Linked DNA regions of Homo sapiens. The protein of the gene in region 7 interacts with the protein of the main gene of each other region in a biochemical or structural test. Each region holds a gene or a part of one and is shown on either strand. Other genes may lie near its edges. The genes, in order: CIMIP4, RPS6KB2, SERF1A, DIDO1, FAM184A, PPP4R3A and LRRK2.

The links.
Region 1: the proteins of LRRK2 (region 7) and CIMIP4 interact on a protein array, tested with the Homo sapiens proteins (one large-scale study listed by IntAct).
Region 2: the proteins of LRRK2 (region 7) and RPS6KB2 form a complex in vitro, tested with the Homo sapiens proteins (one large-scale study listed by BioGRID and IntAct).
Region 3: the proteins of LRRK2 (region 7) and SERF1A form a complex in vitro, tested with the Homo sapiens proteins (one large-scale study listed by BioGRID).
Region 4: the proteins of LRRK2 (region 7) and DIDO1 form a complex in vitro, tested with the Homo sapiens proteins (one large-scale study listed by BioGRID and IntAct).
Region 5: the proteins of LRRK2 (region 7) and FAM184A form a complex in vitro, tested with the Homo sapiens proteins (one large-scale study listed by BioGRID and IntAct).
Region 6: the proteins of LRRK2 (region 7) and PPP4R3A interact on a protein array, tested with the Homo sapiens proteins (one large-scale study listed by IntAct).

What each region holds. Positions count from the first base shown.
Region 1 is NC_000022.11:37,004,480-37,009,379, reverse strand, and holds the start of CIMIP4 (ciliary microtubule inner protein 4), read left to right. Parts: upstream 1-1,528; 5' UTR 1,529-1,651; intron 1,652-1,723; exon of another isoform or gene 1,724-1,908; intron 1,909-4,900.
Region 2 is NC_000011.10:67,426,708-67,431,929, forward strand, and holds the start of RPS6KB2 (ribosomal protein S6 kinase beta-2), read left to right. Parts: upstream 1-1,786; 5' UTR 1,787-1,838; coding exon 1,839-1,916; intron 1,917-2,274; coding exon 2,275-2,315; intron 2,316-2,412; coding exon 2,413-2,533; intron 2,534-2,819; coding exon 2,820-2,888; intron 2,889-4,660; coding exon 4,661-4,808; intron 4,809-5,222. UniProt on the Homo sapiens protein: Phosphorylates specifically ribosomal protein S6. Seems to act downstream of mTOR signaling in response to growth factors and nutrients to promote cell proliferation, cell growth and cell cycle progression in an alternative pathway regulated by MEAK7.
Region 3 is NC_000005.10:70,903,335-70,906,744, forward strand, and holds part of SERF1A (small EDRK-rich factor 1), read left to right. Parts: intron 1-3,410. UniProt on the Homo sapiens protein: Positive regulator of amyloid protein aggregation and proteotoxicity. Induces conformational changes in amyloid proteins, such as APP, HTT, and SNCA, driving them into compact formations preceding the formation of aggregates.
Region 4 is NC_000020.11:62,916,130-62,920,566, reverse strand, and holds part of DIDO1 (death-inducer obliterator 1), read left to right. Parts: intron 1-4,437. UniProt on the Homo sapiens protein: Putative transcription factor, weakly pro-apoptotic when overexpressed. Tumor suppressor. Required for early embryonic stem cell development.
Region 5 is NC_000006.12:118,970,322-118,974,758, reverse strand, and holds part of FAM184A (protein FAM184A), read left to right. Parts: intron 1-184; coding exon 185-331; intron 332-4,437.
Region 6 is NC_000014.9:91,475,811-91,479,310, reverse strand, and holds part of PPP4R3A (serine/threonine-protein phosphatase 4 regulatory subunit 3A), read left to right. Parts: intron 1-2,324; coding exon 2,325-2,402; intron 2,403-2,786; coding exon 2,787-2,903; intron 2,904-3,344; coding exon 3,345-3,500. UniProt on the Homo sapiens protein: Regulatory subunit of serine/threonine-protein phosphatase 4. May regulate the activity of PPP4C at centrosomal microtubule organizing centers.
Region 7 is NC_000012.12:40,360,598-40,365,034, reverse strand, and holds part of LRRK2 (leucine-rich repeat serine/threonine-protein kinase 2), read right to left. Parts: exon of another isoform or gene 1,851-4,437; intron 1,634-1,850; coding exon 1,481-1,633; intron 194-1,480; coding exon 1-193. UniProt on the Homo sapiens protein: Serine/threonine-protein kinase which phosphorylates a broad range of proteins involved in multiple processes such as neuronal plasticity, innate immunity, autophagy, and vesicle trafficking.

The DNA.
Region 1 (4,900 bases), on a different chromosome or scaffold from region 7:
CTGCGGGTGGGACCCGTGACTTGCTTTTAACCAACAGCCTACGGCAAAGGTGATGGATGCCACTTCTGTGACTATGGTACACAACATTGTAATGCCCCATCTTGCAAGGGGACTCCCTCTTTGCTGGCTTTGATGAAGTCAGTGTCATGTTGGTGTTGGGGGGCCCACATAGCAAGGAACTGAGGATGGCCTCTGGCTGACAGCCAGAGAGAGCCTGAGACCCTCAGTCTAACAGACTGCAAGGAACTGAATCCTCCCACAGCCACATGAGCTTGGAAGCATATTCTTCCCTAGTGGAACCTCAGATGAGACTGCAGCCCTGGCCAATACTTGGATTGTAGCCTGCTAAGACCCCAATGCAGAGAACTCAGCTAAGCCATGAGTAGACACCCGACCCAAAGAAACTGTGAGATAACAGTTGTATGTTAAGCTTCGAAGTTTATGGCAAGATTGTCGTGCAGCAATAGATAATACTTAGGCAAGAGATGAGGGTGGCTTGGACCAGGGAGTAGGGGGAGTTGTGGAGGTGGACGAAGGCATCCAAATCTAGTGTACTTCGAAGGACTTGCTGATGGGTTGCTTGCGGAAGTAGCTTAGAGTTTTGTGATGTCTCTCTCTGTGCAAGGCAATGTGCTACATTTTGCAAAAAATTGTTTTATTCGCCCATCACCCTTATCCTTAGTGTTGGGTGATATCTGTTTCACATGTGAAGGAAGTTCAGCTAAAGGACTTGGCCAGTCTCTTATCTAATAAGTGACAGGCCCAGATTCTGGGGACTCCAAGTTTAACCACAGCACTCTCTGTTTCCTGGGGAAATCCTGAAAGGCTGGGCTTGCAGGAGGCGTTCACTATACCCACTCTTTGTCCAGGCTGAGCAACAGCCAGACAGGAATGGGCCAGTGCTGGCACCAATGACTTCTGCCTCCTTCTTCTCTGCAGAAAAGAAGTCACTTAATTTTGTTGATCTCCTTCTGTAGCCCTTGTTGTTTAGGAATAGGAGAGAGGACCCTTCCTTTAGTTTTACTCCCAGGTCCCTGATCCCTGGGTGTCCAAATCAGACAGCTCCAGATGCATCTTTCTCCTTCCCCATTGACCTCGACCTACATTTATGCTGTTATACACATCCATGCCTTTAATATTCTCATCCCTTCAAAACTGTTAAGTTCCTAGGCATCCTTCAAGATCCAACTCAAATGGCTCTTTCATAAGTCCTTCCTCCTTTTTCCTACACAGAGCTAGTTCTTCTCCCTACTTAGTGCTTTGAGCTCCCAAGAACATCTTTTGCACTTGGTAGCATCTGAGCCCCCTGTGCCTGGCACACCTGGCATGTAGTGGGGGCTCAACTGACATTCTAGAGTGGATGAGAGAGTGAACAATAATTGAAGCCCCTCCTGCCTTTTCCTGGCCTCAATCCTGGCTTTCTCCTGGCCTCTTTTCCCTACGGGTGGGCCTATCAGCCCTCTGAGGTAACAGAGCCCTGTGTATAGTGATCACCATGGCAACTCCAATGAACATCTTGGGGAGGGCCACTTCCCAGCAACCATCCATTGGTCTTCACCAGTAGTTCTGCAGTGGGGATCTGCACTTCTGGGCTTCAGCACACATCAGTGTGGTTCACGTGTTTCCTGCTGTTATGAAAGAGATTGGAGAGGTGAGGCAGAGACTTATGAAGGGCCAGGGTTCTTCCAGGACATGGGGTTTCATCTTCCTTCTCCCCATTCAGAGTTGCTTGTGAGTGAAGACTGCCTAGACTGGACTTACCTTCCCGCCCTCTTTGACCAAAGTCTCTTGGGATCTCTCTCTCTGGGTCAGAAACTGGAAGTGAGTCCACACTTCCATTGTAGCCCGTCCAGACTGCTGTGGACTGGCAGTGCACTGGGACGTACAGAGCTGCCGTGGGCACGTCAGGTTGGTGGCTGGGGATAGGAGGAGAAAGAAAACTTGGAGCTAACTTGAACTTCACCTAGCTTGAAGATGTGCAATTTAATTTTAGCCCCACCTGGTGAAGTCCTGTGTCTTTTCGGAGCCTCATTTTCTCCATCTGTGAAAGAAGATAAATTAGTAGTGTCTCCGAACACCTTACTGGGTATTTGTGAAGACCAGACTAATTTACCAGATGTGAGAATGCTTGACATGGACTTGTGTTAGTTATCTCTTGCTGCACAACAAATCACCCCAAAACTTAGTGGGCTTAAGACAACATTTACTATCTCACAGTTTCTGTGAGTTGGGAATACCGGTGGAGTGTTGGTGATTTTTCTGTCCCAGGGTCTCTCACAGGCTGCAATCAAGGTGTTGCTTGGGTCTCTAGTCTCATCTCAAAGCTCGACCAGAGAAGGAACCCATTCACATGGCAGGATCCAGCTACTCTGGAGCTGTTGGCAAGAGGCCACTCTGAGTTCCTTGCCCTGTGGACCTCTCCATAGGGCATCTCACAACAGGGAAACTGGCTTCTGTCAGAGAAGATGAGCTGAGGAGAGCTGCAGAGAGTGTGTGAAAAAGACAGAAGTTGTAGTCTCTTATAAGTTCATCATGGATGCAACATCCCTCATTTTTGCCACATTCCATTCATCACTATGTCCAGTCCACACCAAAGGGGAGAGAATTATACCAAGAAACAGGGATCATTGGGAGCCATGTCAACTGCCTGCCACTCTCTGCCCTCTGGCCCCCAATAATGTACATCCCTTCCACATGCAAAATATAGTCATCCCCTCCTAAGATCTTTAAAATTCTCATCCTATTAAAGCATCAGTTTAAAAGCTAGAATCTGGTCATATAAATCAGCTCCAGGTGTGGCTGAGGCTCCTCCAGTGTCGTTCCTTAAGTACAGCTTCTCAGATTCAATTCTTCCCCATCATAGATCTGTGAAACTAAGTAATTTGCCCTGAACACACCTAACATACAGTGATGTGATAGGCATAGGATAAGAACTAGTGACATTCCTATTCAAAATTGAGGAAAATGGAGACATGGAGTCAATGTTCCATAGCGGTTTTGAAATCCAGCCACACAAATGTTGGACATTCCTTGATTAGGTTTCAAGGCCTGGGGATAATTCTCCATGGCTCTCAGCTCTGCCTTCTGGACTCTTGCATCCACTCTCTGACTTGTCTTTTTTATTTTTATTTTTTGTTCAATGGTATCTTTTCATTTTGTACTGTCTCTATCCCTTTTACCCGAAGTTGCCAACATTTTGCTGATGTTATTTTCTCAACAGTAAAACTTACAGGGGTTCACTCCATTGAACAAAAGTCACACCCCTTTTTAACTGAGGCTCCTGTTGAGGAGCCTTAAGCTTCCTAGAGGTCCTATGGTTCTGTTAAGAGGATATATCAGGCATCTCTTTAATCTCTTTAAAGCACCCTTTGTTTGACAGAGTAATACCCTCATCCTTTGATCTTTCTGAAGTTTTAACAACAGGTCGCACAGTCACACTCCTGGGCACACTTTCCAGACAGCCTTCTGAAGCTATTTCTTAATTTTAGCATCTTTTGGGATCTGGAAAGGATGAGACTTCAGAACCATTAAGTACTGGCATCTTTTTGTTTAACAGTCCCTTCTTCAATTCATCACCTTCCTCTCACATTTCACTACAAGCAGCAAGAAGAAAGTAAGAGGCAACTACCATCTTTTCTTTGGAACTCTTTAGCTAAATCATTCAGTTCATTAGTCACATAACTGCAGATGACAGTGTCACTGTTTCTGCCACTACATAACAAGGGTCTTTCTTCCACTATTTCTAGTAATATATTCCTCACTTCCATTTGGGCCCTCACTCACTGCATCTTCCAACTCCAGATTTCTGCTTAAAAAAAAAAAAAAACTGTTTAAGGTGATTTAGGCTTTTTCTATCATGCTTCTCAAAATCCTTATAGACTCTGACCACCGCTTGGTTCCAAGTTCAGTCCCAAATTTTTAAGTATTTGTTATAGCAACACCCCACTGTTAGTACCAAAATATGTATTAGCTATGTATTGCTGCGTAACAAATGACCATAAAGCTTAGAAGTTTGACACTGTATGTTTAAAACAGTACAAATTTATGATCTCAGAACTTATAGGAGTCAGGATGCTCACTTGGCTGGGTCCTCTGGCCCAGGGTATCCCACAGGCTGTAATGAAAGTGTCATCCAGGCTGTGTTCTCATATCAAGGCTCAACTGGGGAAGGATCCACTTTCAAGCTCATTCAGGTGTCAGGATTCATTCAGTTCTTCAAAGACTGTTGGACTCAGGGCTTCTATTCTTTATGAGCTTTTGGCCAGAAGTCACCCTCAGTTTCTTGCTCCATGGGCTGCTCCACAGGGCAGCTCAAAACACGGCATTTGCTGTCATCAGAATGAGCAAACCAAGGAGAACCAGGGAAAGAGAGCAAACAAAACCGAAGTCACAGGCCGGGCACGGTGGCTCACACCTGTAATCCCAGCACTTTGGGAGGCTGAGGCGGGTGGATCACTTGAGGCCAGGAGTTAGAGATCAGCCTGGCCAACATGGTGAAACCCTGTCTCTACTAAAAATACAAAAATTAGCCAGATGTGGTGGTGCACACCTGTAATCCCAGCTACTCAGGAGGCTGAGGTGGGAGAATTGCTTGAACTTGGGAGGTGGAGGTTGCAGTGAGCTGAGATTGCACTACTGTACTCCAGCCTGGGTGACAGAGTAAGACCCTGTCTCAAAAAAAAAAAAGAAAGATCACATAAGAAAACAAAACACAAGCACGAAAGCTGCAGAGGCTTTTGAATCTACCCCTCTAATTTGAATCCAAGGCCTTAGAGAGAAGACTGAGTTTACACCAGAGCAAAGTGTGGGTTCCTGCTCTTGGTTCTCCTTCGTGGTGGCTAAGCTGCTTCCCTTCCCTGAGCACGAACGACCATTCAGCAAATGGATACAATCCTATTTG
Region 2 (5,222 bases), on a different chromosome or scaffold from region 7:
CTAAGTTCATTCTGTCAACAGCGTTTTTGGTTTTTGCTGGGTGTAGTGGCTCATGCCTGTAATCACAGCACTTTGGAAGGCCAAGGCAGGAGGATCACTTGAGTCCAGAAGTTCAAGACCAGCCTCCTGGGCAACAAAACAAGACCTCCCCTCTAAAAAAAAAAAAAAAGAAAGAAAGAAAGAAAAGAAAAAAGATTATGTGATTATGTCATTCCAGTTACTTGGGATTTGAGGTGGGAGAATCACTGGAACCCAAGAAGTCAAGGCTGCAATGAGCCACGATCTTGCCACTGTACTCCAGCCTGGGTGACAGAGTAAGATCCTGTCTGAAAAACTAAACAAAACAAAGAAAAAAAAACCATAAAGTTTTTTTTTTTTTTTTTTTTTTTTTTTTTTTTTTTTTTAAGATGGAGTCTCGCTCTTGTTGCCCAGGCTGGAGTACAATGGCATGATCTTGGCTCACCGCAACCTCCGCTTCCCAGGTTCAAGTGATTCGCCTGCCTCAGCCTTCCCGAGTAGCTGGGATTACAAGCATGCACCACCATGCCCAGCTAATTTTGTGTTTTTAGTAGAGACGGGGTTTCTCCATGTTGGTCAGGCTGGTCCTGAACTCCCGACCTCAGGTGATCCGCCTGGCTCGGCCTCCCAAAGTGCTGGGATTACAGGTGTGAGCCACCGTGACCAGCCAGGTTTTCGGGTTTTATCTGTTTGAGACTTGGTCTCACTCTGCCGCCCAGCCTGGAGCGCAGTGGTGCAATCTTGGCTCACTGCAACCTCTATCGCCCGAGTTCAAGCGATTCTCCTGCCTCAACCTCCCGAGTATCTGGGAGTACAGGTGCGCGCCACCACACCCGTCTAATTTTTTGTATTTATAGTAGAGGCAGAGTTTCATCATGTTGGCCAGGCTGGTCTCCAACTTCTGACCTCAAGTGATCCACCCACCTCGGCCTCCGAAAGTGTTGAGATTACAGGTGTGAGCCACCGCCTCCGGCCTGTTTGTTTTTTTGAGACAGGATCTCACTGTGTCACCCAGCCTGGAGTGCAGTGGCACCATCATAGCTCACTGTAACCTTGAACTCCTGGCCTCAAGTGATCCTCCCAACTTGGCTTCCCAAAGTGCTACGATTACAGGCGTGAGGCATCGTGTCCGGCCTCAACAACGTTTTTTGAAGTGTCTATTCTGTACCAGGTGCCTAAATGTGCTTAAATTAAGAAGGGAGTAAACGCCAACAAAATCCCATATTTACAGGTCTATCACTGACCCCCAAAACCCTATTTAAGGCGGGAACCTGGCAACATAGCCTGGCAGTGAGCTGGCCACTCAGTAAATGCTCCGATTTGCAGGGTCCTCGAGCCAGAGGCACTTTGAGGAGACCCTGATGCAGCCGCCTCCCTTTCTGGAGTGAACCGAAAGCAACGCGACCTGCCTTTCATCACGCAGCCGGCCTGGCAGTACCCGTCTCCAACAGGGCTGGGGATTGCATTTACATTCACACCTGCATACACTTCCGACCCTGCTCCATCCAAACTCAAAACACCGTAGAACCAAAACGGGCTCCCAGAAAGCCTTGCTGGGAAGACCGAGGGTCCTGCGGAAAGGATTCTGCAGGCTGAAGGCTAGGCGCCTCGCCACTCTAGGACTACAATTCCCGAGAGGCCTTGCGACGGAAGCCATCTTTGTTCCCCACCAGGCTAAGCGATTTTCCGGAGGGGGAGTAAGATCCCTTGCGTCACCGGCGCGCGCAGCTGCCGTCGCGGAGAGATGATGTTTAGGTCCGGGACTGTCAGTCAGTGCGCGGCCAGGTACGGGCCGACGGGCCCGCGGGGCCGGCGCCGCCATGGCGGCCGTGTTTGATTTGGATTTGGAGACGGAGGAAGGCAGCGAGGGCGAGGGCGAGCCAGAGCTCAGCCCCGCGGTGAGTGCCCTGCCCTGGCGCGACTGGATCCTGGAGCCGATCCTGTCACCCAGCCGAGGCCGGAGCGGCGGCTCCGCACGCCCAGAGCGGGCTCCGACTCTTTGCAGACCCAGATCCTTCTCAGATCCCGGTCTCTATTAAGTTCTGATCCCACCCTCACCCCGACCTCTCTTCCAGAACCCCAGCCTTTTCTCCCGATTCTCCCTTTCCTGCCTTCGGTTTCTTCCCAATTCTTACCCATCCCCTACTAGCTGCCATCCCTGACACCCTTCTCTCCTGGGCCACGCAGTCCAACCTGAACGGGAGCGGGGAGGTATCCTGGCACCTTCCTTGGCTCTTACCCCTCGGTTTCTCACAGGACGCATGTCCCCTTGCCGAGTTGAGGGCAGCTGGCCTAGAGTGAGTGAGGGTCGTGTTGGGGGAGGGGGGAATGGAGTGGGGAAGGGGAACTGGGGAGCACTGGAGCCTTGTCCTCATTAACTCCTTGTGTCCGTAGGCCTGTGGGACACTATGAAGAGGTGGAGCTGACTGAGACCAGCGTGAACGTTGGCCCAGAGCGCATCGGGCCCCACTGCTTTGAGCTGCTGCGTGTGCTGGGCAAGGGGGGCTATGGCAAGGTAGGGGCGGGCGCACCCTCCTCCTGGCCTCACAGCCTCCATCTGGAGGCAGCAAAGGGTTCTCAAAACAAATTAGACTTGTGAATCAGCAGGGCCTCTAATGGGATTCAGAGCCAGAAACATAAAGGAGGGAAGGCCAAATCCTCTCCAATCGGACTTGAAATCTTCACTGCCCCACCCTTGGCAGGGCCTAGGCCTCCTGATCCCAAAGCCAGAGCTTCAGGGTGGGGCTTCTTGAAGATAGGATGTGGAGAGGGAAGTTGATCCTGTCTCCCCTGCCCTACAGGTGTTCCAGGTGCGAAAGGTGCAAGGCACCAACTTGGGCAAAATATATGCCATGAAAGTCCTAAGGAAGGTGAGTCACTCGTTCAGCCAACGAATACTGTGTGGCTGCCATTCCCAACATGCTGTACCAGGCTTTGGGAAGACAGCAGGGAACACAGTGGAGGAGGATCCCTGACTTTGGCGTTTGCTGGTTTATTGTCTGTTGTGATGTGTATTGTCTTGCAGTAATTCTCAATGGGGGCAATTTTGACTCCCAGCAGACATTTGACAACAGTGTCTGGACACTATTTTATTTTATTTTTTTTTAAGACGGAGTCTTGCTCTGTCACCCAGGCTGGAGTGCAGTGACGCGATTTTGGCTCACTGCCACCTCTGTCTCCCAGGTTCAAGCGATTCTCGTGCCTTAGACTCCGGAGTAGCTGGGATTACAGGCGCTTGCCACCACACCCAGCTAATTTTTGTACTTTTTTGTAGAGGTGGGGTTTCGCCTGGCTGGTCTCTAACTCCTAATCTCAGGTGATCTGCCCGCCTTGGCCTCCAACGTGCTGGGAGCTGGGATTACAGGCATGAGCCACCGTCCCTAGCTTTTTTTTTTTTTTGGATGGAGTCTTGCTTTGTTCCCCAGACTGGAGTGCAGTAGTGCACTCTCTGCTCACTGCAACCTCTGCCTCCCGGGTTCAGGTAATTCTCTTACCTCAGCCTCCTGAGTAGTTGGGACTACAGGCTTGTGCCACCACACCTGGCTAATCTTTGTATTTCTATTTGTTTACCTACTTATTTTGAGACGGAGTCTCACTCTGTCACTCAGGCTGGAGTGCAGTGGTGCGATCTCGGCTCACTGGCAACCTCCACCTCCCAGGGTGAAGTGATTCTCCTGCCTCAGCCTCCTGAGTAGCTGGGATTACAGGCGTGAACCACCACTCCTGGCTAATTTTTTTTTTTTGTATTTTTAGTAGAGATGGGTTTTTGTCATGTTGGTCAGGCTGGTCTTGAACTCCTGACCTCAGGCTATCCGCTCACCTTGGCCTCCCAAAGTGCTGGGATTACAGCCATGAACCACCGTGCCTGGCCTAGTTTTTGTACTTTTTAGTGGAGGCAGGGTTTCACCATGTTGGTCAGGCTGGTCTCGAACTCCTGACCTCAGGTGATTCGCCTGCCTCAACCTCCCAAAGTGCTGGGATTACAGGTGTGATCCACTGCGCCTGGCATGGACACATTTTTGATTGTCAAGGCAAGAGGGGAGTGTTACTGGCACCCGGTGGGTGGAGACCAGGGATGCTGCTGAACATCCCACGATGCGCAGGGCAGCCTCCCACAACAAAGAATGACCTGGTCCCAGGTGTCAGTAGTGCCGAGGTTGAGAAACCCTGTGTTAGAGGATAAACCCATCCCTGAAAATGATGGTGGCTGACAGCAGCAGAATTATGGAGAAATACAATGCAGTGACAGAGGATGCAGCAGTTAACAAACAGATGGATGGTCTGAGGAGCTCTGGTTGCCCCCATTTTTTTTTTTTTTTTTTTTTTGAGATAGTGTCTCGCTCTGTCACCCAGGCTGGAGTGCAGTGGCGTGATCTCAGCTCACTGCAACCTCTGCCCCTGGGTTCAAGCGATTCTCCTGCCTCAGCCTCCTGAGCTGGGATTACAGGCGTGTACCATCATACCCAGCTAATTTTTCTATTTTTAGTAGAGATGGGGTTTCACCATGTTGGCCAGGCTGGTCTCAAATTCCTGACCTCAGGTAATCCGCCTGCCTTGGCCTCCTAGAGTGCTGGGATTACAGGTGTGAGCCACTGTGCCCAGCCTGGATGCCTCAGTTTCTAACCAATTCCTGTATCTCCAGGCCAAAATTGTGCGCAATGCCAAGGACACAGCACACACACGGGCTGAGCGGAACATTCTAGAGTCAGTGAAGCACCCCTTTATTGTGGAACTGGCCTATGCCTTCCAGACTGGTGGCAAACTCTACCTCATCCTTGAGTGCCTCAGTGGTATGAGTGCGGGCCCAGGCAGGGGTGCTGGGGGTCGCGGGGGGGCAGCGAGCCAGCAAAGGAAGCTCTGGGGGGAAGCTCTTGAGAGATGAGTCTGTGGGGGTTGGCTAGGGGGCCCCCACTCTGTCCTACCCATCCATCCATCCATCCGTGCATCCGTCCCATCATTCATTCATTCAGCAAACGTCTGTCCAGCACCTACTGTGTCCCTCACGTGTGTTGGGGGTGGATGGGCATGGTGCGAATTTGGATAGAAGTCCAGAGGATGGTTGAGTCTCTTCCTACTCCCCTCCCTGTCTTGTTCTTCTCTCCCGTGTGCCCTGCATCCTGTCAGGTCCCCAGCCCAACTGGTTCATTCTCTGTAGTGTCCTCCTCCATCCGTCCACTCTCAGGGGCCTGGTGGGGTGGCCAGAG
Region 3 (3,410 bases), on a different chromosome or scaffold from region 7:
TTACAATAGTTGTACATATTTTGGGGGTACATGTGATCTTTTAATACCTGTATGTGGGCTGGGTAGTCCCAGCCACTTGGGAGGCTAAGGCAGGAGAATCACTTGAACCTGGGAGGCGGAGGTTGCAGTGAGCCGAGATCCTGCCATTGCATTCCAGCCTGGGTGACAGAGTGAGACCCTGTCTCAAAAAAACAACAACAAAAAGAAACTGGCTTGGCGTGGTGGCTCATACCTGTTAGCCCAGCACTTTGGGAGGCCGAAGCGGGTGGATTACCTGAGGTTGGGAGCTCAAGACCATTCTGACCAACATGGAGAAACCCCATCTCTACTAAAAATACAAAATTAGCCAAGTGTGTGGCCGGGCGCGGTGGTTCACGCCTGTAACCCCAGCACTTTGGGAGGCCCAGGCGGGCGGATCACGAGGTCAGGAGATCGAGACCATCCTGGTTAACACGGTGAAACCCCGTCTCTACTAATAATACAAAACTTAGCCGGGCGAGGTGGCAGGCGCCTGTAGTCCCAGCTATTTGGGAGGCTGAGGCAGGAGAATGGCGTGAACCCGGGAGGCGGAGCTTGCAGCGAGCCGAGATCGTGCCACTGCCCTCCAGCCTGGGTGACAGAGCGAGACTCCGTCTCAAAAAAAAAAAAAGCCAACTGTGGTGGCGAACACCTGTAATCCTAGCTACTCGGCAGGCTGAGACAGGAGAATCACTTGAACCTGGGAGGCGGAGGTTGCGGTGAGCTGAGATCTCGCCATTGCACTCCAGCCTGGACAACAAGAGTGAAACTCCGGCCGGGCGCGATGGCTCATGCCTGTAATCCCAGCACTTTGGGAGGCCAAGGCAGGAAGATCACGAGGTCAGGAGATCGAGACCACGGTGAATCCCTGTCCGTACTAAAAATACAAAAAATTAGTCGGGCGCAGTGGCGGGCGCCTGTAGTCCCAGCTACTCGGGAGGCTGAGGCAGGAGACTGGCGTGAACCCGGGAGGCGGAGCTTGCAGTGAGCTGAGATCGCGCCACCGCACTCCAGCCTGGGCGACAGAGCGAGGCTCCGTCAAAAAAAAAAAACCTTTATGTGTACAATGTGTAATGATCAAATCGGGGTAATTGGGATATCTCTATGCTCAAACATTTAACTTTCATCCAGTTCTGATTTAATTGGTCAGAGGTCGAGCATTAAAAAGCACCCTAGGTAAATTTTACTGTACTTAGGTTATGCCTTTTTTTTTTTTTAAAGGCAGAGTCTTACTCTGTTGCCCATGCTGGAGTGCAGTGGCGTGATCTCGGCTCACTGCAACCTCCACCTCCTGGGCTTAAGCGATTCTCCTGCGTCAGCAATCCAAGTAGCTGGAATTGCAGGCGCCCGCCACCATGCCCAGCTAATTTTTGTATTTTTAGTAGAGACTGGGTTTCACCGTGTTGGCCAGGCTGGTCTCAAACTACTGACCTCAAGTGATCCACCCGCCTCGGCCTCCCAAAGTGCTGGGATTACAGGCGTGAGCCACCACGCTGGCCCAGTTATACCTTTTTTTTTTTTTTTTGAATTTTTTTTTTATTATTACGCTTTAAGTTCTAGGGTATATATGCACAACGTGCAGGTTTGTTACATAGATATACATGTGCCATGTTGGTTTGCTGCACCCATCAACTCATCATTTACATTAGGTATTTCTCCTGATGCTATCCCTCCCCCAGCCTCCCAGCACACCCAGTTATACCTTAAACTGAACTTAAAACAGCTCCCAGGTGATTCTAATGTGCAGCCACTATTAAGAGTCATTGATAAATGAGATTAAAGACCTTAATTTACGGCAAAGGTCCTGACACCTTTTTTTTTTTTTTTCCCAGATATGGCGTCTTACTCTGTGACCCAGACTGGAGTGCAGTGCCACAGTCTCGGTTCACTGCAAGCTCTGCCTCCCAGGCTCAAGTGACCCTCCCACCTCAGCCTTCTGAGTAGCTGGGACTACAAGGGCACACCACCAAGCCCAGATAGTTTTTATATTTTTTGTAGAAACGGGGTTTCATCATGTTGTCCAGGCAGGTCTTGAACTTCTGGGGTCAAGTGATTTGCCCACCTCAGTCCCCCAAAGTGCTGGAATTACAGGTGTGAGCCACTATGCCCGGCCCTAACATTTATTATTAAAGTGATAAGCTTTGTCTTCAATTTCTGTTGACTCACATTAGAGTAAAAATGAACATGGTATGAATCAGTGACCCTGCAATAGTATTTTTATTGGAGAACCTAGTCTAGCTTGGTTCAGAAATTGTCATTGTTTACCAGATATGCACTCCTTATAAAATTCTATGCTAGACATTCTATATACATTATTCTTTATTCATCATAACTCTGAAAAATGGTATTAGCACTAATCTGTAGAATAGGAAACTGAGGCTCTGAACTTCAGTAACATTACTAAAGTTACACAGCAAGCACAACAGAGCTTGGTTTCAAATAGAGAAGTAACTGTCATGGTTCTTTTTCCACTGTACTTCATTTCTTTATAGCTATGTTTTTGTTTTTGTTTTAGTGAAAGCAAGTTTATTAGGAAAGTAAAGAAATAAATATTGGCTACTTTATAGGCAGAACAGCCTGTAGCTGTGTTATTTTGCCTTTCTTCTTTATTTTTATTTTATTTTATTTTATGTTTTTGAGACGGAGTTTCGCTCTTGTTGCCCAGGCGGAGTACAATGGCGCAATCTCAGCTCACCGCAACCTCCACCTCTCGGGTGCAAGTGATTCTCCTGCCTCAGCCTCCCAAGTAGCTGGGATTACAGGCATGCACCACCATGCCTGGCTAATTTTGTATTTTTAGTAGAGATAGGGTTTCTCCATGTTGCTCAGTCTGGTCTCAAACTCTCGACCTCAGGTGGTCCGCCTATCTCAGCCTCCCAAAGTGCTGGGGTTACAGATGTGAGCCACTGGCCTATTTTGCCTTTCTTCTATTCCCTTGTTTTTGCTATTGGCTTTACAGAAATATCTTACCATCATGGCTGTGGAAATCAGTTTAGCATTTCCTCAAAAAGTTAAAACAGGCCAGGCTCAGTGGCTTACACTTGTAAATCCAGCACTTTGGGAGGCCGAGGCGAGCGGATCAACTTGAGGCCAGGAGTTCGAGACAAGCCTGGCCAACATGGTGAAACCCTGTCTCTACTAAAAATACAAAAATTAGGTGGGCTTGGTTGCACATGCCTGTAATCCCAGCTACTTGGGAAACTGAGGCAGGAGACTCGCTTGAACCAGGGAGGTGGAGGTTGCAGTGAGCAAAGATTGTGCCACTGCACTGCAGCCTGGGCAACAGAGCAAGACTCTGTCTCAAAAAAATAAATAAAAAATTAAAAAGTTTGAAACATGAGGTTAATAAGTCAGAGTTGTGGGACTTTAACCAGAGCTGGTAGAGTGCTTGA
Region 4 (4,437 bases), on a different chromosome or scaffold from region 7:
TTACTTTTAGGAAGATAAGCTGTGTCTTTGAACAATTTTTAGTGGCTCAACCATGTGCTTGCCCCTTGGGGCAAGTGTGGAATCAATCTGATGCGCTGTCACCGGTAAAGCTGTTCCAGTACACACCTCTCCCTCAAAGTGCCCTACACAGCCCCTTGCTGAATCCTTTGCAGCAGTGAAAATCGGGGGTTGGGGGGAGGCAAGAGTAGGCTGTGCTTGGGGCCATGGAATTATGCAGGTCTCTAAGGGTGTGGACCGAGGAGAACATAAAGGAACAGTGATTTAAACCTGTAATAAACAGATGCCCTTGAGGGGAAGCAGCCCCCACAGTACCCTGCTGGGATGACCTCCCGCAGCGCACCCCACTCACATGGTACCCGGGGAGCTCACACTGCCACACTTGCGGCATGAGGTGGATTTCTTCATGGGGATAAGAACCTGTGCATTGTGGTCCTCACCAGGGCCCAAGTGGTAATCTTTTATTAAGAGCAACAGGAATCCTGGTATGTAGAATTGGGACCGTATCTTAAGTGTTTGAAACCATACTTTCTTTTTTACTGAGACAAGAGGAGTCCATCAAAGGTAGTGGTTTAGGAGACTTTATGTCCAGCCATTAAATAGAGAACAATAAACCTCACTTCTCCTTCACCTCGATAAATGATTTTATGTGACTGTTTCTGGTTCCTGGCATTCATTTGGAGAGTTGAAATTTCCCACCTGAGTTGCCCACCAAGGTCACCAGCCTGTGTTTTGCACTAGGAAGTAGATAGAGGGAAATGGCAGGATTGTTGCAAGCTCACATGGGGAGCTTGGCGGCCCGGCTGTAGCCGGGGGCTGGCCAAAGCATTAGTCCTCAGCAGGTTTTTCAGTAACAAGTTTTGCTTTTTGTCTCCGCGTATCTATAAAAACACAAATACCCAAGAAATGTAAAACAACAATAGGTTGTTTCTGGATTTTTCTCTACATTTTCTTTGTGAGAAACATACTGTGTTGTGGCACCCTTGCTGCTTTTTTTTTTTCTTCTTTGAGAGGGAGTTTTGCTCTTGTTGCCCAGGCTGGAGTACAGTGGCACGATCTCAGCTCACTGCAACCTCCGCTTCCCGGGTTTAAGTGATTCTCCTGCCTCAGCCTCCCAAGTAGCTGGGACTACAGGCACCTGCCACCAAGCCCTGCTAATTTTTGTGTTTTTAGTAGAGATGGGGATTTCACCATGTTGGCCAGGCTGGTCTCAAACTCCTGACCTCAGGTGATCCACCTGCCTCAGCCTCCCGAAGTGCAGGCATGAGCCACCGCACCCGGCCCAGAATAATTTTTGTAATGACGGTATTATTTGGTAAGCAGCAAAACTTTGAATTTGCCGTCTGAAGGATTTAAATGTAATCTATGCAATTGAGTCAGATTCTGCATAGATACTAAAGTAAATGAAAGTTGGGCTTCTTCAGTTCCTTGTGGGCCCAAATCTCTTTCCTGTTTGGTGAGTGCAGCACAGTGTTTCCTGCCGCAAGCTGGTGGAGCTTTGAGTGGGCCATCATGGTACATGAACGGCTGCTGCTGGTGGCTGGAGAACACGTCGCATTTGGGGATGTCATCTGAAGTTTCTAGGCATATTCTCCTAGTGACTGTCGCATTAATGAAAACTGAGCTATCAAGAGTCTTTCATTGGGTAATCTTTCCTTCATTTGTGGTAGTTTAAAGATCTTTTACCTAGTGTCTTCTCAGTTGCTCCTCATCTGCATAATAAACAGATTGATGAGCCAGGAGACCCTTAATAGGCAAAATATAAATAAATGTAAACTTTGGCCTACCCTGTCAGAATTAGCGAAAATAATGAAGTTTAGAATAGTGAGGTTTTATTGTAGCATTATAATTTCTGACTGGCGGGTTAAAATTGTTTTGAATATTGTTTCAGGGGAATGTGAGGTTTGAAGAAACAGAATGTTTGCCACTAGGTGAGGTAAACTATGCATTTTTGTTTTATCTTTTTGCTTAGAAGTCAGAGCTCTTTTCCTGGAGGTGCGATGTTATGAAAATAGAAACTTAATTATGGTTGTATGTCATATTTTAAAGTGTCTTGGAGATTAATTACTCAGAAACTAGTCTCAAGTTTTTGGAACTGAAAATCTTTAGGTGGGAGCTGGGCACTGTGGCTCACGCCAGTGGTGTCCCAGCTACTCAGGTTGAGGCAGAAGGATCGTTTGAACCTATGAGGTAGAGGCTGCAGTGAGCCCTGATCATGCAGCTGTACCACAACCTGGAAGTGGGCACGCTTGAGTTAATGACTTCAAGCAGATTTTAGAGTAGTAAAAGTTGAGCATACAGATTTGCAGTGGTTGCAAACCCATGCATTGTAATAGTTGCAGTTAGGCTTTTTAAAGTAACAGAGCTGACCTTTTGGGAAGATATTTTTATTTGGTTTTTAAGAAATTTCACTTTTGGCTGCTTACTGTTTTGGTGAGTTGGGGAATCTGAGGGAAGATTAACAGGTAGTTACAGAACCCTTGTGGAAGGAAATGTTTAAAGTCTCTTCTGATGTCTGAAGCATAGGTATGTATTACTGCTTTGCACATATCCAGTGTACTCCTAAACTGGTAGAAATGGCATGTTGCCACAGTTCTTTGTGTTTCATGGACTCCTGAGGGGGAAGTCCTTGAAGCCCTTTCTGGGGCTAAGAGGTAAAGATGACTTCTGCATAATAATAGTCTAATAGTACAGGCCTTTTCTGGTGAGTTTGACATTTGCATCGGTGGCACAGGGCAGATTGGAGCCCTCTTCAGCACCGTGCATGGGCACCGAATGTTTAGAATATGCCAATTTTCCCAAATAATGTCCCTGATGATGCAGTAAATATTAATTTTTTTCGGAACCCGCAAACATACATCTTTTTTACTTTCGCTGTGATTAAATGTCAAGTTATATATAAAGCTTCTGCTGCATCCCCACGTGGTACTGTCCACGCACAGCCCTAGGGGATTGAGCTGGGAGCCGAGTGGTCTCGGAAACGCTGTCTGTCCCTGACAGAACAACAGACGGAGGACAGTTTTCAGACTCAGCATGTGGCAGGCGTTTTGTCCAAAACGAGTGATGTCTCAAAGAAAAAACGAACAGTATTTGTTGCTAAGGATAAAATTTGAGCTTTGGGGTGAAAATTGGAATTTTAGAAAACTTGTATCTGCCATTGTAAACCTGATGGCTTTCTAGTAATTAAAGTCTTCTTGGAGATTGGACCCGACATTATCGGCCAGGTGAGGTGACTCACACTTGTAATCCCAGCACTTTGGAAGGCGGAGGTGGGTAGATCACTTGATCCCAGGAGTTTGAGACCAGCTTGGGCAACATAGTAAGACCCTGTCTCTACAAAAAAAAATGCAAAAATTACCTGGGCATGGTGGCATGCACCTGTAGTCCCAGCTACTGGGGAGGGTGAGGTGGGAAGACCGCTTTGAGCCTGGCGGTGGTGTGGGTGGGGGAGGTGCTGAGGCTGCAGTGATCCTTGATTGCACCACTGCACTCCATCCTGGGCAACAGGAAAAAAAATGTTTGTTTTATGCTATCCGATGAGATGTGTGGACATTGAGAATCTGTCTGTTACTTGAACCCGTGTCATCCAGGTGAACAGCATGCACATGGGTCCAGAGTGCAAGGACGTGTTCAGAGTGAACACAGCAGTCAGTTTTCATGAAAGAAAGGGAGAAGTTCCTTGACAAAGGCTGCAAATTCTGTTTCAGCTAACTTTTATGAAACTGCTCCTTGGCGAGAGTTGGTGTAGTATCAGTGAACATCCAGTTATGTGAAGATGGTTACAATACTCCATTCTAAAGACCTATCTGTGTGAGGCAAGATTTTGATGACATGTTTTAGCTGAAACACTCTATGGGAACAGATTGAGGGCAGAAGTAGACATGAACATGGAGCTGTCTTCGGTTATGCCAGAAATTTGCAAAAATGTACAACAGGGCCACTCTTCCTGTTCATTTTTGTTTGTTTTAGAAATAACTTTCATTTAAAGATACTATTAATGTATTAATAGGTTTATTTTTAATACATACTTAGAATTTTGAAAATAGCAATACATTCCACATAAACAAAAGCTCTTTGGTGTTCTCAACTTGTAAAAGTGTCTTGAGACAAAAGGTTTGAGAGCCGCCATTCAAGCATTTGGAAGTCAGTGTGTGTCCTCTGCTTGAATCGCCGCTCATCAGCTGCTTCTAGTCAATAGAAAATGAAGCAGTTTTCAGCTGGGGAAAAAAATGTGCTTAGAAATGTGGAAATATTAAATTTGGTACATTCTGTTTTAACCTGTAGTTTGTTCACTTCCCAGCTTCAAGGATACCCACATTTTTCTTTCTGGGGAAAAGTTGTTACTGATACAATATGGTTGCAGTTTTATGAACACATTCCCCCTGTGATGGGCTGTGTAGTGTGTAGAATTACACACTA
Region 5 (4,437 bases), on a different chromosome or scaffold from region 7:
TTAAAGGAGACAACTTTAACAAAGCCAGAAGCTTATAGCAGAAAGTAAGTAGCTTAATTTAGGCTGTTTACATAAATTTTCTATATATTATACCAAAAACCATTTCAAATCTGGTAGAATAATAGAAAGTTTTGAAAGCTTGACTTCAGAATAACATTTTCTTAACTAAAAATAAATCAAACAGGTTGCATGAACAAGATTTAAACAAGAGACTTGAAAAAGAGTTGGATGTCATGACAGCAGACCACCTCAGAGAGAAAAATATCATGCGGGCAGATTTTAATAAGACTAACGAGCTACTCAAGGAAATAAATGCCGCTTTACAAGTGTCGTAAGTCATATTATATAAGAAAATTCATATGTGGATAATAAATTTAGGAGCACTGTGTTTAACCTCAGATTAGCTGTTATTTTGACTCTAATAAAAAGGATACTTTAAAAAGAAAATTTTAGTGCTGTGTTACAGATGGTAATTGCAGTGCTATATGTTCTTTAATTAGGATGAGGCAGTTGAATGATGATGTTTTATCAACTAAGACTGCACCAGTTCTGCTAGAACAGTAATCTAAAGAATGTTCCTTAGGATCATGAACTATCATGCCATGGTGAAAACTGAAAATATGGCTATATATAATGTTAAGTAAAAAGAATATATAGTGAACAATAGGAATACTATGATCCTATATACACACTAATAATGTATATTTTACCAAAATATCAAAATATCTTAACAAATACCAAATTTTAATGGTAATGGTTCCCTCAAGAGAATGGATTAGGAGGTACTGGAGATGAGAAAGAGCAATTCTTTCTTTTTATTTTATATACTCCACTTACATATTGTTTAAATTCCTACAAGAAGCATCTAATTGTCTTATGATTTTAAAAATCAATAAAGGGGAAAACATTACAAATAAAGTTACCGCTCATACATAGTAACTACAGTATTGTTAAAACCAAAGTTTCTAATTCTTATTTAATGTTCTTTGGAAACATTTAATAACCCTTCCTTTCCTAGATGCTTGTAAACTGATGTAGCTAATGCAGTTTGTACTCAGTCCATCTCTGTGGCCTAAACCCTGGTCCAACATAAGTTATTTCAGAATTAATCTACTCTAAGCTGCTGCTAGTAGTTTATTCACCTTTAGTCTCTCCTCTTCCAATCAAATATATATATATCCACATACTTCAGTAAAGTCACAATTAGTGACTAATCCCATTATCCTTCATGTCAAAGTCAAATGTAAACTTAACAGCTCCAATGTGCCTTATTCTACATCATCCAACAGCAACCCTTATTTCTTATTCTGTCTTTTTATCAGCCTAGTGGACCTTCTTGGTTTCCTGTGTTGTCCTCTACAGTCTAGAATAACCTCCTGTGTTGTTGCCGTTTTAAGTATTGTCCTCAAATCTAAAAATTATCTTCTTTTATTTGATTTATGTGACCAATTCAATCTTTCGGTAAAGATTGTTACATACATAGGCAACACCACAACACACACATACAGACGCACACATGCACACACATGTATTCACTTAAGCCACAGCAGAAAACAGGTCCCCAGTTGTTATTTACTTGAGTATGCTGTGAGATGAGGTGCTCTTTCTGATGGGCATATTCAGAATCGTTACATTAGTTAAGCACTCAGTGAATGTTTCATGAATGAATTTTATGATTCTTTCTCCATCATATTTACCACTTTTTGAAGTTGCCTTTGAAATGGTGAGGAAACTTGTGTTACTTCCCTGGTCACTCTGAGTTTGGTGTTTGCTGTTATTAGAGGTGATTTTTAAATCCTTTTGGGCCAAGTATGAGCTCAGGTATCTGCCTTGTATAACAGCTCATAACCCCATACTTTTGCAGAAATGATTTACAATAGACCTCAATTCCTTGGCTGTCCTTTTTCCTGGCCTCAGTGGTACTCCTCAGACAGAGACTGAAATCTTGGCATCCCCCACTTCATGCTCCGAAAAAACATAGTCACAGAAAGAATAACGTCAGTCTGTCTGTGTGTCCTGTCTCCTTAGGAATGTTAATTTACAAAGAGTAAAGGTTGTGTCCTTGTTTTTCCTTTATTCTGTTGCATATGGTTTTGCACATTATGAATCTTCAGTAGGTAGCAAATAACTTAGTTTTTGATTTTATGATCATTTTTAATAATCAAAGAATTAGTATTTGCTTTTAAGTAAACTACCTGCTTTTCTAGACTCTCCTTTCATTTTAATGCTTCCACTTGGGTCCATGCTAACCAATTATGTTTCTTTTTTCACCAGAAACTTACTGCCACCAGGTAATTACCCCCTAGCTTTAGGTGTTTACTCCTTTAGTTAAAAACAAACACACACCAAATTTATATTTGACCAACACTGTCCAATAGATTGTGATAATGAAAATGTTTTGTATCTGCTTTGTCCAGGTTAGTAGCTTCTAGCTAAAAATGGCTCTTGAATGCTTGAACGGTGATTAGCATAACTGAGGAGCTGAATTTATAAATTTCATTTAATTTTAATTAATTTAAATGTAAATAGCCATATGCAGACTAATGGCTACAATGTTGGAAAACATAGTTTTAGACAATTGGTTGTTTCTGTTTCATATCCTTAAATGCAGCCTGCTTGGATCTGCTGAATGGTTTGGATTTAGACAGGTAGTGAGCAGGGAGAGTTGGTTCCAACTTATGGAGCTGTGGGAAACAGTATCTGTACTGTTCCCAAGGACTAGGGGATTCTATTGAAGTTCCTAATCAGCTGCACCCTGGCTTTAAAACTTTGAAATCAGAAGAGTCCTGTGGATTCCTGGAAGGCAGTGGTGCTGGGGGCTGAAGGGACATGGTGCAGCCTGACAGGCCACAGCCTGCCACTGAGGAAGCTTGGGGGCAGAGGCAGCTTCTTGCTTCTGCTCCTGCCCCAAATCCTGTTGAACTCCCTTCCTGGAGAGAGAAGGGTGGGGCAACACATGTAAAGGATGGGAAATACCCTCTAAGTCTGTAAGTATTGTAGAAGTGGTGATGAGTTCTATATTGCTTATGGATGATGATTATTACAAATCCGCTTTGGTGCTGGAAGTTAAAGTTTTAGATTTTTCAGAGAGTTCTATAGAAATTTTATTTTTCAGTGATATAGTAGTAAAAACTTTATATCTAATAAAAATGTCCTGATTCTGGTTTCTTTTAGAAACAAATGAGAAAATGGGCTGTTTGATTTTTTTTTATCTGAATGATTTACTCTGTAAGTAAAGAAAGTTCAAGCTAAATGAAAACATTCTCTACAACTTGAGGTCATGGCCGATTTTTAATATGCAAAAAGATGGTTCTGAGATTACTGATTGTTTAGGTTTATTTCACAAAAGATGATTTCTTCTTGAGAGAAATGTTGAGTTTCTATACTTAGATTTTAAATAGATCAGTAATCCCCAATTGAAAAGAAGCACTCCGCCACACCTGAATTACTAATTTTTTGTTTAAGTTTTGAGTCCTTTCATCTATAATACCCAAATAACTTTTGTTTTTGTTGTCATTTGATTTTTAATTTACCATTCAGGTATGGTTGTAAGCTTTGTGAGGTACGGAAGTAGTCTTGTCACAAATCAGAGTCTGTGCGTAATTTATGGGAAAAGAAAGGTTCAGCGTTAAAGTGCTTCAATTGCTATATTTCCTTTATTTAAGAGTTTAGAAAATGATGATATAGGAGTTTTTTCATCTTTATAAAATCAAAGTTATAGGATATATGTGTGCATAATATACTATTGTTTGGTTATGAAACAATAGTATACCATTTTTGGTTCTAAAATTCACTGATTTTATTTTTTTATCCTTTTCTTTTTCTTAACAAGACTATAACTTGGAAACTTTGTATACAGCTTTTTAGGCATTTGTAATTTAGGCCTGTTGTCCATGAATCACAGACATTGACCTGTATATTGTCAGAGCCAAAGAAAGCAGGGCATGCATGCCTGGTGAGAATCCATCAGTGGCCCTAATTAGTAATTTTATATGTTCTACTTCTCCTTTCTCCTTTTTTCCCCCTTTCTCTTCTCTCTTCTATTACTTTTAATGGAAATCTGTAAAATTTGAGTAAAAGGCTACACTTGTGTGGTATTCTCAAGGCGGCATTTCCCAGGCTTTAATCATCCTTGGGATGATCATATACATCCTTGGGAATTGGGTCATTTCTGGCTACGTATATTATTTTCTTAATATTTTTAATTGACTTATTTTAACTTAAATATTTAATAGGAAAACTTGATATCACTACAGTAGAACATTTATCACTACTGAAAAATTTTATCCTTTATTCTAAATAAAAGCTAAGCTATAATTATATGAATGTAAATTTTGTGAAAATAAAACAATGTTATTAGATTCTAGCTAGCATTTATGCTGAAGTCCTGCCTGAGTGTTGTGAAATAGAGTAATGAACATAAGTTATGAAGGCAAT
Region 6 (3,500 bases), on a different chromosome or scaffold from region 7:
CACACACACACACACACGTTGTTTTTTATTCTTTGATGCCTGTGGTATTGTAAGAATAATAGGTCTTTGGGAGACTGAGGTGGGTGGATCACTTGAGGTCGGGAGTTCGAGACCAGCCTGACCAACATGGCAAAACCTCGTCTCTACTAAAACTACAAAAATTAGCCAGGCGTGATGGTGGACACCTGTAATCCCAGCTGCTCAGGAGAATGAGGCAGGAGAATCGCTTGAATCCAGGAGGCAGAGGCACATGCCTGTAATCCCAGTTACTCCAGAGGCTGAGACAGGAGAATCATTTGCACCTGGTAGGCAGAGGTTGCATTGAGCCAAGGTCGCACCGCTGCAGATAAGTGTAATATGACTTGGAAGATCTTTTAAGACTTTACCTCAGGTGTATAAGTAAAATTTATTTGAAACCTGAATTTGTTAAGTATAGAAAGGAAGACAATAAATGTAGTAAGAGCTGCCTGGTAGCACACATTACATATAAAGCAGTATGTTTAATCATGTCTGTTCCTGTTTAGAAAATTTTGTATTTCTAAAATATTAGCCAGTGATAGGCAAAAAAAGGAAAAGTATGAACTAAAATACTGAGTTCTCCTGATCCTTTTCTTTAGCTCCATATGGTTCTGTTTTTGTTATGTGGGGATTTGTCACTTCTGTGTTTTCTTGGTCTTCATACATGTAAAATGCCAGTTTTATTCATTAAGTATGAATAATTTCAAGTTGTTAAATCTTTGCTTCCCTGTAATGTGCTTTGTAAAATACTGGCTGCCAATATGTCTGTTTCTCTTGATGCTGGACACTTCTATCCAAAGTGCTGCTGTGAAGGCTGTAGCATTTTACAAATGTTTTGGCAAGAAGTGATTGAGGTACAGTTTAATGCAGGTTCCTGCCCACTTTGTATAGCCCCATGCACACAAAATAAATATCACACCCTCTTAACATTGACTGCTTCCTTTGTAGTACCATAAACATTCTTATTTTCTCTATTTCTGTACCCCCAACTGCAGCAGTTCAGAGAATGTCTTTTTTAACCATTTGATACCCATTTGGTAGAATATAGTATATTGGAGATGTGTCTTGAAATTGGATGCCATTTGGGTAGCAAACATGGTCAAGATCATATTAATGAGGTATGACCTATTTGTTCATTTTAGAAAAAGTAAAGGTGAGAATAACCAAACTAACTTAGTGCCACAGAAGATTTTTCTGGAGCACTCACAACAGTGAATGTGGAGCCAGTAATCTAGTGGGAGCTTGTATATACATCCATGTGTATGTGTATTTAGAGTGAGGCATGTCTAGGGCTTAAGTGGTATTGAATCTACTTCCACTAGCTGAGGTAGTAATTAAAATCTTGGTCGAGCATGGTGGTTCATGTGCGTAATCCCAGCACTTCAGGAGGCCCAGGCCAGTGGATTGCTTGAGGCCACGAGTTCAAGACCAGACTGGCCAACATGACAAAACCCCATCTCTGCTACAAGTACAAAAATTAGCTGGGTGTAGTGGTGTGTGCCTGTAGTCCCAGCTGCTAAGGAGACTGAGACAGGAGAATTGCTTTAACCTGGGAGGCGGAGGTTGCAGTGAGCCGAGATGGCACCACTGTGCTCTACCTGGGTGACAGAGCAAGACTCTGTCTCAAAAAGCAAAACAAAACAAAAGCCAAGATCTTGATGAAAAAATAGTGATGAGAAACATTGACCGGACAATCATGAAGGCTCTGCCACCTTAATTGGGCTTGGGTAAATTTTAAAATCCAAGTCTCAATTATAAAATGAGGAAGTAAAACAAAAAGTTCTAAATTTTGCTTTTTAAATAATTGAGTCATTCTCTGTATCTTTAAAACACTAAAGTAGCTTTGTCTTCATTTTCATTCTCATTTGAGAGGTTGTAGAACTACCTTTTAAAAGTTAATAAGGTTATAAAACCTATGAAAGTGAGGGGTCAGCAAGTGTTGGTCCTGCTATTTTTGTAAGTAATATTTTATTGAAATACAGCCATATCCATTCATTTCCAGTTGTCTGTGACTACTTTCATATTACTGGAGCAGGGTTGAGTACTCGTAGTAGAGATCACATGGGCCGCAAAGCTCAAAATATTTACTACCTGGCCTTTATATAGGCTTAGAAAATAGAGCCTTGACAAAATTTTATACTTTAATAGTGTGGTTTTTCCTTCTGTTAAAAAAAAAAAAAAAGACAGCATTGCCAATACCACCTTTCCTTTTTATAGTTATTGCTGTGTATATTAAAGCATTCCTGAAATTATATTTTAGGACAATCTTAGCATTAACATAATTGCATTTGTCCTTTGTTTCACAGGAAGATGAAAAATTTCTGACAGATTTGTTTGCACAACTAACAGATGAAGCAACAGATGAGGAAAAAAGACAGGAATTGGTAAGAAATTAGATACTATGAAAGGCATAAAAATAAAACAACTGGCCGGGCTTGGTGGCTCACGCCTGTAAATCCCAGCACTTTGGGAGGCCGAGGTGGGTGGATCACGAGGTCAGAAGTTTGAGACCAGCCTGGCGAACATGGCGAAACCCCATCTCTACTAAAAAGTACAAAAATTAGCCAAGCATGGTGGCGGGCACCTGTAATCCTAGCTACTCAGAAGGCTGAGGCAGGAGAATCGCTTGAACTCGGGAGGTGGAGGTTGCAGTGAGCCAAGATCGTGCCATTGCACTCCAGCGTCGGCAACAAGAGCAAGACTCCGTCTCAATAAATAAATAAATAAAATAAACTTTTTATATCACTTATCCTTTTTTCTAATTTCAGGTTAACTTTTTAAAAGAATTTTGTGCGTTTTCCCAAACGCTACAGCCTCAAAACAGAGATGCTTTTTTCAAGACTTTGTCAAACATGGGCATATTACCAGCTTTAGAAGTCATCCTTGTAAGTTTTGTGTCTCCTCATTTTTAATTACCATTTTTTAATCCCAAAATTAATATTTTTAATGCTACATGCAAATATTCTATTATAGCCAATATTTGAAATTAGCTGCGTAGTTCATTAAGTTAAAGAAGCTGTAAAATTCCAATATTAGACAGTTTTCACACAGTATTGAAAGAATGCAGTAAAGGAATTTCCCATAATTTAATGATAGTTTGTCAGCTTTGCAGCTTATTAGCTGAAATGTTAAAATAGGCAAACAAATAAATGATTTAGAAAGTATAATTTTATCCGTACAATAAGAGTTTTATATGCAGAAGAATTTCTTTGACCTTTCTTTTACATTGAAGTTTTTTCATATGTTTTGTTAGGTTTGGATATTTACATAGCTATAGGTTCCGTATTTTTATAAATACAGGAAAAATAAATGTTTTTTGTCTGCAGGGCATGGATGATACACAGGTGCGAAGTGCTGCTACTGATATATTCTCATACTTGGTTGAATATAATCCATCCATGGTACGAGAGTTTGTCATGCAGGAGGCACAACAGAATGATGATGTAAGTAAGAAGTTAACAGAGCAAAAAATAACCAGCAAG
Region 7 (4,437 bases):
CATGACTCTGACCGAATTACAAAAGTTGTAAATTACACGTATAAGTCGACGAGTTGAAAGATCCAGGAGTAAAATATGGCCTCCTCCAGTTCCTATCCAAAGAGCAGTGTTCTTCTGAAGGCAGAGGGTTTTCACTCTCCCAGAATAAGACATTTTGTGTTTTGATTCCTTGTTTTCTTTTACCATTACCTCCCTAGAACCATAAAGTATACATTAATAATTTTACCACCAATTAAGAGATAAATGCTATTTACATATGATAACATAAACAACATTTTAAATTATTAAAACATGACACCACCACCATTATGCATCATTAAAATTATACAAAGCAAATTTTGCTAAATACAGATGCCAAAGAGCCACACTTCTTTACTTGAAGCATAAATTATCAAAGATAACAATAGCCCTTCATTTTCAGGAAATTATGAATAAGAGGGATACAATTTTTATAAATACCAAAGCTATCTAATTCAGTAAAAATAGCATACATGTGCCCAGGATAAAGAAAAAAAAAAGTTAGAGTCAAAAGTTTTACATGAAGTCTCAATGTTACAAAGGAACATAAAATTATAGTCATTCACATGTAAAAGATATCGATACAAACCACTGAATTTTTTCCCAGAACCAGTGAATAGTCTAATTCATGACAAAAATGAAGTGTCCAGAAATAAAAGAATCCTAATCGTTTTGGTACTTCAGGAAGTAAGGAACCCTTTATCAAGGAGACCTGTTGGCCCTTCTGAACATAAACTGTGAGCCCTTCTCACAATCCATAGAAAAACTGTCAGATGAATCTAAGACAGGAAACTTTGAAGTATCCTTTTACAGATATAGTGTGTAATCTAAAATGTTCTCAAGAGTATCATAGATCTATATGGTAAAATCAAAACAAAATAAAAATATAAAGTGGCTAGCAAATAAGCTTGAAAATGGTCCTGTTTCTCAGCACCAGCACAGAAAGAATGTGCTTGCTATGGATTTGTCACTCACAGGCTGCATCAGACTAAGCACTATGCTCTCATTCTGGGGTCTTGATCCCCACTCCTTAGCGCCTCGGTCAGTCCATTGCATTTCCCCCCATATTTGTCTATTATTTTGTGACTCTTTTTCTTTAGAGCAGATAATCCTGGGGCCCATAATTTAATTATAAATAGTATATTTGACACTGTGACAGAACTATGTCAAAGCTAGCAGAGACTCCAATATGCTCATTTTCAATAATGTAGTATTTTCATTCGAGAACATTCTTTGTAATACCATGAGAAAACTATGCACATTATGTGCCTATTCTTTTATGTTCTGAAGACAAAATTTTCTTGATCTGAAAAGATGGTGCTGAGAAGCATTACAAATTTTTTTCTGCATTTTAAAAAAATTCTCTATTCAGAGGCAGAAAGGAAGAAAAATCCTTCCTCTGTGACACATGAAGTGCAAAGATAATTCTTTTGGGAATAAAATTAAAAACCACAGAATTTACCTTAAAAAGTGCACGCAGTCTATTAGTCCACAGAGTTTTTCAGTTTTCTTATCCCACACTTCCACAACAGGGCTATTTTGCTTAGCAATATAGAGAGCAGTGTCTACCACCACTGTTATGATGTTGGAATCACTGAAAGCTGCATAAGAAAACCTACAGAGAAAAAAAAATAGAAAGTCATCACTATTTGTTTTCTTCTTAAAATTTCTACGTGTAATACAACCTTATATTAGTTCTTAATGTAAAAACACTATTTTGAAAACTAAACAAGCTAGACTATTGCAATTATTTCATATTCTTCCCTAACCATTCTGAATTGAATATATAACATGCTTTGGTACTTTACTTACTTTTGGTTACTTTATATTAATTTCTTGTGATAATAAAATAAAGATTATGTCCAATGTTTACTTTGGTCTTACTTTTAGTTTCAATTCTATGTGGCTCTTTGTAGAATTTTGTACTATATCTAAATTTCTGAAGGAAATATTATATCTGTAACTTTTGAATGTTCTTGCAAAACTTTGTTTCATGAATGCTCAGAAAATTAAGTGTTAGCCTTTTATACCTAGAGTTATAAAATATAAAATGCTGAAATAAAATTTAGTTGCAGTGTCTTCAAATTTTAAAGCAAGGGATATCTTTGCAGTTAAGCCAGTCAAATTATAGAAAACAAAAATCCACATCATCCAAACATAAACAGAAAGTAAAATATTTGCCATTTTCCCCTTTTAAACATAAAGAAAAATTACGAACACCTTAAAATATTTCCCTTTCAACCTAAGACATCTGGCATTGTACATATTTCACAAACAGATTGGCTACCTTGGGCCACATCAGCATGGCAAACTCCTACTTGGCCTTTGAGGATGAACTTAAATGTCGGCTCCTCTGGATTTCTTCCCTGACCTATCAAAATAGACCAACCAGTCCCTTTTCCCCACTGGTGTCACTGTCATATTATAGACCTTATTAAATATAAAATTGTCTTTATTAGTGCATCCCTCACACTAGATTATGAGTGTAATTTCATAAGGATGAGGACAATGTATTTTCTACATACCCCTCGTCCAGTAAACAGTTGCACAGATAAGCACCTCTGATATAATCAAGCAGTCTGTTAAGTGGGGGAATAGAAGAAGGCACTACAGTATGAATGAACAACGAGGAATATGTAAAAATAGTCAAAATTGCATTTAAATCAGATAGATAACATGAAAATACCATAAAGATTTAACAATCATTAGTATATCCTAGAGTAGGAAGATTTTTTTTCCTCCCCCTTTTCTTTCTATTCTGGAAAAGGAGGTAAAAATATGATGTGTTGTCAGAGAGCCACTACGCTTTAGGTAATTCCTTCTTGGATATTTGCTGTATTTAATAGAAAATAGTTCCAATTAGGACAAAGTTTTGCATGGAATTTCCGTATTTTATAAAATACTTTTGTGTGTTATCTTGCTTGATCCTTAATAAAAAAACATAAAATATGATAAATCTCAATGTTTTTAATAGTAGAAAGAAACATGTACAAATGCTAAATAATTTGCTCAAGGTCCTATGACTAACATCATGCTTGCCGACCTAGGACTAAAAACATGTTGCAGACCTAGAACTCCAAAAGTCCTATGGAGTCTTCCGGCTTCAAAGGCAGTCATCTTTCATTACCCAACATGCCTCTCAGTCGGTGTGTACTGATGATGATGAGGGTACTGATGATGAGGCAACCCCTGATTAGTGATGTGATGTCTGTTTTGTGGGGTAGAGACCAAGGCCACAGGAGATACTTGTTCAGAAGAGAGCAAATATTTATATTTAAGTGTTTATGCATCTAGGTCCCAATCTCTTTTGGGAGATGAGCATCTTTGAGAGCTTGATCTTTATGGATGCTCTCTAGTAAAGCATCTATGCTCCAAATCTTATATGGAACTTTAAAGAGTTAACTGATATCCATAATCCCATAAAATGTGCTATGAAATAAAAAAATAAACTGGAGGCCCTTTCTTTTTAAAGGTTTTCAGGCTTGTATAATTGGGTTAAAAGTGGAAATTACAGGAAGGGGAGCAAAGATGAAAAACTACCTATCAAGCACTATGCCCACTTTCTGGGTTGTGAGTTCAGTTGTATTCCAAACCTCAGCATCACGCACTATACTTTTGTAACAAACCTGCACATGTATTCCTGGAATCTAAAATTAAATTTGAAAAATAAAAATAATAAAAGACATTTTTACATTCATTTTTTAAAATGTGGGTATTACAGAATGAGAATGAGTTGATCCAAATGTTAACCACATACTAGTAAATAAATATGTAAAGACAGAAATAAAAATCCTCATTCATGGGAACTTATAATACACTGCACTCCGCAGTATATCTTAACCTCAAATATACTTTAGAATCACTTGAGAACCTGAAAAAAAAAATCTGATCCCCATCCCAGGCTTAACTGGTCTGATTTAATTGGTCTGAGGTAGGGCCCAGGTATCATATTATTTTCAGCTACCTAGTGGTTTCTAAATGCACAGCCAATGTTGAAAGCCAGTAGATTTAGTGGTATTGAGAAACTACTTTAACAAATACAATTATAGCTACTGTGAAGGAAAACATTAGATGCAATGGAAGCACAAAGTCACCTAACCTGCCACTCAGAGCAAGTGGTGCTTGGACTGAAATAGGCAGGGGGCATAATAGTCATCCAGGTAAGGAGAAGACCACATTCAAAGGTTGGGGGTGAAAGGTAATAACAGGTTGTCTTAGAGATCTGAGTCAATTTCAGTTTGGGTAAAGCACAGATGGCAAAAAGCTTGCAAAATATGAATCTAGACAGGTAAGCAAGCACTGAATTATGAAGGGCCCAGTAGGCTGTCTTAAGGAATTTGGACTTCATATAAAGGACAATGGGATACCACTGAAGGGTTTTAAGCAGGAAAATTGCATCAGATTGATGTACATTTTAGA